2 linked regions of the Homo sapiens genome follow. The protein of the gene in region 1 purifies or fractionates together with the protein of each later gene. This does not show direct contact. Each region holds a gene or a part of one and is shown on either strand. Other genes may lie near its edges.

Region 1 (3,831 bases):
AATGAGACATAGAACAAACCCTGAGTTAGTCACATTCTGATCTTCCCCCTCCGCCACCGGATATTTATTTTTTCTTTTCTACAGATGTCTATTTTGCAACTCTGCTGGTTTTGTCCTTTTTCTTAATCTTGAGGCAGGTATATTGGGAGGCAAGATATTCCAGTCATTTCTGCAGCTTTTTTATTCATCTCCTGGTGGGTGGATGAGAGTGATGCTGTAGCCTCCAGGGCTCGACAGATCTTTTCCCTTCTCTCCACCCTCTCTCTCTAGGATCAATCTGGGATTGATGGGTACATGGTAAAAGAAAAAAAAAAAATCCTGGGTATTTTTTTCTACCATACTTCTAATTGCATTTGTTTTGTCACCCTTAGGACTACCAAGAAGCCTCCAATTTGGAACAATTCGTAACTAGATTTTTATTGAAGGAAACCCTGAATCAGCTGCAGTCTCTCCAGAATTCCCTGGAATGTGCCATGGAAACTACTGAGGAGCAAACCCGTCAAGAAAGGCAATTTACATGTTTTCATCTGATGTCTATTTAGTGACTCTATGTTCATGAAAAAACAATTGAGAGGCATTGTACTTACACTAGCAAAAACTAAAAAAGAGAATTGATATATTTAAAAAGAATGACAGTGACCTCCACTGGTTGCTTGCCTTATTATTTGCCTCTAAAAAGACCATTCTACTTTTTCTTTTACTGTCAGTCATTTAGTAAACTATATATATATATATATATATATATATATATGTGTGTGTGTGCGTGTATATATATGTCTGTGTGTATATATATACACACACACACATATATGTGTATGTGTGTATATATATACACACACACATATGTGTGTGTGTGTATATATATACATATATGTGTGTGTGTATATATATATATTTCTTTTTTTTTGAGATGGAGTCTCACTTTGTCACCCAGGCTTGAGTGCAGTGGCACGATCTTGGCTCACTGCAAACTCTGCCTCCCGGGTTCAAGCAATTCTTGTGCCTCAGCCTCCCAAATAGGTGGGATTACAGGCACACACCACCACGTCCAGCTAATTTATTGTATTTTTTAGAAGAGACGGGGTTTCACTATGTTGATCAGGCTGGTCTTGAACTCCTAACCTCAGATGATCCACCCATCTTGGCCTCCCAAAGTGCTGGGATTACAGGTGTAAGCCACTGAGCCCAGCTGAGTCAACAAATTTTAATTGAAAATTTAGTAGATGGAGAAGACTTTAAAGTATTATGAATAATATAAAGATACATTTAACATAATGTCAATCCTTAAGGAAGCCTAAGTCTATCATATAAATAAGACATGAACACAAAAACTATACTGCAAAGAACAAAGTGATAATAAATACCGTAGAGAAGAGGAAATACATTGCCAATTGTTTTCAGAATATTAAAAGATTAAATATGGATAGAGGGATGGAAGGATGAGAAAGTCAATTTCATGGAGTTTCTCTATTTGAGCTTGTCTTGCAAAATCAAGAGATCAGTGAAAAAGCCTGGTGGGAAGACAAGACTTGAACTGGACCTGTAGGATGAATTTGAATGGCAGAATGAGAGTCTCTCTAGAGGGATCCGTCTCACCCACCTCCTGTTACCCACCTCTCATGTGGCTCACTTCTCTTTGGTTGTCTGGTCACTGATTGGACAGTAATTTCTCTGGGAAGCCTTCACTGCTCATTCATACCTCCCACTTCACTACCGTGTATTCCTATAGTGCCCCCTATTTATATCTACTTATCTCAACCCCTTCCTTGTTAATTTGGTGTAATTTTGAAAATGTGGAAATGATGGGAAAGACCCTTACAGACTACATGAACCTGGATATACTTGGGAGACCTGATAATTCAGTAAGCCTAATTATTTCAGGAAATGGAGAAAAGTGAATGATGGAAATTATTTCAAAATTCAATGCCACCAATAGGTATCACTGAGAAAATAAGTAGTCATATTGCAATAGCTATATAAATAAAGGCACTAATGCTTAAGAGACACCTATACTAAAAATGTGTAGGGCACACATCAAGGTGATCCCAGCCAACAGTTGATATTTTTCTGAGTTGTCATTGCTTATACTTTGCAAGCTAGAGAAGCTTGCAAAACTCTTGCTCCTGGGGCATATTTTGGCAGATGTGTTACTTTAAACTTATAGATGTGCTTTATCTAACTTTTACATCTTAAATTAGAGAGAAGGAAACAGTAAGTTTTCTGAACAGGCTGATAATAGACTACCCTGCAGGACCAATTTTCCTGAACAAATTAACTGATACATAATTATTAGGACATCTCCAAAATAGTGGAATTTTCAACCATGTGTTTACAATGTCAAAATGAGTGAGCACCACCAACTTCTAACAAAAAATCCTGTAATTCCAGAATCTAATGAGCCCATGCAGCTGACTGTCACAGGGAAGTACTCTTTAGCAGATCTGTGAAGCATCCTCTACATCATAAACTTCCTGTTTTCACTGCGTTGGGTGATTCTATACCAAATGGCAAAGTATAACAATTCACTTTAGAAAAGCAAAACCCACCTCCTCAGCTTTGAGCAGAGGATAACTGAATGTCTTGAAGCACAGTGAAATGGATTTCATGTTCCTAATGAGAAAAATGAGGCCTCCTGTGTTGTTTCTTTTGTTTGGACTTTCTGGAAATAAAATGGGAACTCCCTTTTTAGAATCAGTCATCTGCCACCTGAGAAGAGGCTTGAAAAAGTGCTCTACTCCCCTTCTTCACCTGCGCTTTTGTTTTTTTCTACAGTCATCCCCTGAAAACCTGTGCTCTGCATTTACCACCATGCTGTGAATGTTTAATGAACAACTGTTTTCTGTGTTAGGCCACAGGCTAGCCTTGAACTCTTGTGACTGCTGCCAGCAGCTGCCTAGCAGCTGTGCTTAATGAGAAGGAGCATGACAATATAGACTTTAAGGAAAGTAGAAGGCACTAGAGGATTAACGAACCTTTTACTTCTGGATTTCTCACTCAAAAACAGCTTCAAATAATGGGAAATGTTACATGTCTGACTGCAGTTTAAGGGGTGCTGTTGTATGGCATTTGACTAAGACACCCAGGAATGACAAAATCCCACCCCAAATCTGTGATATTCCCCCTGAGAGGTTTATAAAGAAATGCATAAACAAGCAAACAGAAAATAAGGTACCACTATGGATTTATGCCCGTAATATCTGATGAACCAGACTGAAGCACGTGAATTATGCCCAAACCTAAAGGGACTGTGTCTCCTCTCCCAAGGCTATATCTTCCTATCAGCTGGCCACCAAAAGTGAGGAGAGCCCTGGGACCTTCATCAGTGAGGAAAAGATAGAGAGAGAAAAACTATACCTTTCCTATGATGTCAATCAAGAGACCAGTGAAAACGCCTGATGGGAAGACAAGACTTGAAGTGGAACTTTAGGATGAATTTTAATGGCAGAATGAGATTCTCTCTAGAGGGATCCGTCTCACCCATCTCATGTTACCCATCTCTCATCTGGCTCACTTCTCCTCGTCTGTCTTGTCACTGATTGGACAGTACTTTCTCTGGGAAGCCTTCACTGCTCATTTATACTTCCCACCTCATTACCATGTATTCCCATAGTGCCCTCTATTTATATCTACTTATCTCAGCCCCTTCCTTGTTTATCTCCCCCATTAGACATTGAGTTTTTAGATGGCAGAGACTTTGCATAAGTCCCCTCTACTTACTACAACTGCATGGTAAACATATGAAAGTGAATGAATGAAAGGAATTCTAGGTGAAAGGAGTGCTACACAGGAGCAGTTGGTGAGGACCCAGAACACTGAGGAGACCAATCTAAC
Region 2 (3,224 bases), on another chromosome or scaffold:
TCTCCAGCTGAGTGTCCCCATGAAGTCACCTTCTGAGTTGTCTGGTTGGCCACAGTTGAAATAAAAGGTTCAGTTGAGTATCACACACATGCTTTCTTTGAAATAAAGTTTCAGGGTATAGTAGGAAGGCACAATGAAACTGAAGTAGAGGTGGAATCATGTTGTAAGTGAAGGGAAATGGCCTTGTTACATTGGAGTATGATAAACAATGCTAACTTCTTAAGTAGCTGTACCTATTTCATGTAATTTTGATTATGATTATAACCTGCAACAATTTTAATTATGATTTTAACCTTGCCAGAATTCACCTGACAAGAGTTTTGTCAGGAATTAATTGAATTGTCTTTGTAATGGGGCAGGAAAATGTATCTGGATTTTTTTTTTACATATGTATGTATTACTTTTTCAAAAAAAGCAAGAAGCAAGAGGGAAAAAAAATCCAGCGGAGGCTTCCAAACAGTTAAACAGACTGCAGATTAAATGAGAGGCAATTGTGAATTAAAGGCAACTGTGATTCAACTGCCCCAAAGCGGCTGATACTCAGGGCAGAGCTCAGGGCGAATCCAAGAGCTGGGAAAAGGAAATGATGTGAGACTTTGTGTGAGACAGTGCGGACAACTCATACCAGCTGAGCATAGCACAGACTAGAAAACCTATTACACTGAAATGCTATTGAACTGATCTTCAGAAGCCACGCAGATATGCTTCTGAATACACCAAAAATCAACACCAGAAATGCAAAATGAAACAAGTTTATTTTCTCCAATAACTTCTGTAAATTACAAAGACAAAATACTAAAAACTACAGCATATAACTTTTCAATATTTAACCAGAGTACTCGTAATAAATATGCATCCGGAAACAAGATAAAAGGCTACACCTCGTCAGGCATCCTACAAAAATGTCTCAAGTTTTATATACTCTGCAGCATTTCTGTGCGGGGGCAGAAGGGGCTGTTGTGTATTTTCTGAAGTGCTGTGACAAAAGGTCCTTTCACATTTCTTTGGAGCATTTTTGAAATTGCTTAACTATAATTAAACAACTTAAGAAAAGTAACACCAAGCTTTAAAGCCATTTTTGCTTTGCTGTCATTGGTCCTTATCCAATACAGATCAACATATCATCCAGCACAGCCAAGCACCCACTGAGGCCAAGCAGCCTTGTGGGACATGGGCCCTGTCAGAGCAGGCCCTACTTTCAGTTAAATACTTTGGAGAGTCCAGGATTCTGTCTCTCTCCCTCAACAAGATTAATGCCATAAGGGAAGTTGCAAGCGTGTTAGAAACATTTTTAACCTGAAAGTAAAGTGAACAGAAATATTTTTTTTCCGAGACCTCTGCTATGCACCATAATATTACCATATCAGGGTTTTTAGCTTCAAAGTTGAAAAACAGATTGGTACTAACAGTCCTTCTAGAGATCATTTATGGGCGCTGGTAGAGTCAGGGCATTCAAAACATTCAACGGGTAAAAGGAGGATTTGCTAGATTCAGAAATGCGCTACAATTCTGAAGACACCATGGCTGAAAGTTCTAGGGGTGTTGGTGGCAGCTCATATTAGGTCTGGCATACATAACTACCTTTTGCTATAGCTGAAAACTTTAAGGAAAAAGTTATATTTTTAAAAAGTCTCAAGCATGGCTACCTAAAAAGTATTTTGTTAATATAATCTACTGTAATTTCACTTATTTAGGAGTTCAGATATGAAAACATCTTTATGAGCCAATAAAAATATTACAGAGAAAAAAATACTTCTACAAAAGTTGAGGTTAAGAACTATGAGGCATTTCTTTTGGCTGTAAACACACAGTTTACTGTCCCTTGTTGAAACACAAATGTTTGGATTTCCTGAGCTTCACAGATAACAGCAGGAGGCAAGTTTGCATAGAAAATTTGCAGTATGTCAACAATTTACTTAAAAAAAGAACTTTTAAGGACAACTTGCTTTTGTTTTTAAGTTTCATATTTTAGTTAATAGTGCTCATCAAACTGAATATTGATAAGCAGGGTGATGAGATATATAAGGCAGATGGGAAGAAAACATGGAATTAGAGTTTTTAAATCCACAGGATATCATGATGAAGGGTTTTAAGCAGATACTTCATAACTAGTGCCATACTAATTTAGTTAGAAATTAAATCATGTTTTGGAATTGAAAGCCAAAGGCAAAAAGAGCTCTCCTGTGCTGAATGGCACTGCCCGAGTACAGGAATGGAAGGAGCATTCACTGCAGGAGGCCTCAGCACATCACTCGGTGGTGATAAAGCCACTCAGCCAGTCAGGGATGGAGGAGGGGGCCCCCCTGCCAGCATCAGGACCAGACCTCTGGGCATGGCTGATCCCAGCTCTGGAATCTGAAGGGATGACAGGGACTTTCACCTCTGCTGGTTTGAAGTCTCTAAGCAGTTCTGAGGCGGGCAGTCTTCTCCTGGGAGAAGTCCTCAGAAACCTTTGGAAAGGGAAGAAGCTACGCTAGGCCACAGTGCATACCACGAATGAGAACAATGGCAGCGGCTGCCGACAACTCTGGATCTAACACAAAGACAGATGACAAGGGGCAGTGTCCTGCCAAGGAATCCACTTTACTTCTTTTGAGACTGGTTTTTACACATGGTAAGGATTTGCTTCAGTACTTTCTGGACATCTTCATCCATCTGGCCCTAGGATATTCAAACACAAGATACTCATTAGAACCTAAATTAAGCCATGGCACTTTCTTCTCTGGGGAATGAGATGGCTGACTGCAATGAAGACCTGGGCTAATTCCCACATCTTTCACAGGAATGTCAGCCCTATCATTTCCCAAATTTCTATGAGGAACTGAGTCAAAGAAAGGGCCCTGCCTTTATCCAGCTGGAAGATGAGGTGGCAGTGTCTACCAAAACCCTCAGCAAAAGCTATCTGGGGTCTCAGTTGCAAATGTGAGTCCAGCAGCCAGAACACCAAGCATCATAGAGCCAAGGCAGCACTGGTAACTAAGAAGATCAGCATTGCTGGAAAATAAAGCCCCCGTCTTCCCAGTGGAGGACCACATCATCCCTCATTCCTCAATAAATGATGGGAGGGTGGGGCATGGTGGCTCATGCGTGTAATCTCAGCACTTTGGGAGGCCGAAGCGGGTGGATTGCTTGAGCTCAGGAGTTTGAGACCAGCCTGGGCAACATGGCAAAGCCCCATCTCTACAAAAATACAAAAATTTGCCAGGTACGGTGGTGGGTACCTG

Evidence for each region.
Region 2: the proteins of NECAB1 (region 1) and RAI14 purify together in Homo sapiens (affinity purification with mass spectrometry; one large-scale study listed by BioGRID and IntAct). This does not show direct contact.

The regions. Positions count from the first base shown.
Region 1 is NC_000008.11:90,917,121-90,920,951, forward strand, and holds part of NECAB1 (N-terminal EF-hand calcium-binding protein 1), read left to right. Parts: intron 1-371; coding exon 372-508; intron 509-3,831.
Region 2 is NC_000005.10:34,830,125-34,833,348, reverse strand, and holds the end of RAI14 (ankycorbin), read right to left. Parts: intron 2,662-3,224; coding exon 2,584-2,661; 3' UTR 737-2,583; downstream 1-736. UniProt on the Homo sapiens protein: Plays a role in actin regulation at the ectoplasmic specialization, a type of cell junction specific to testis. Important for establishment of sperm polarity and normal spermatid adhesion.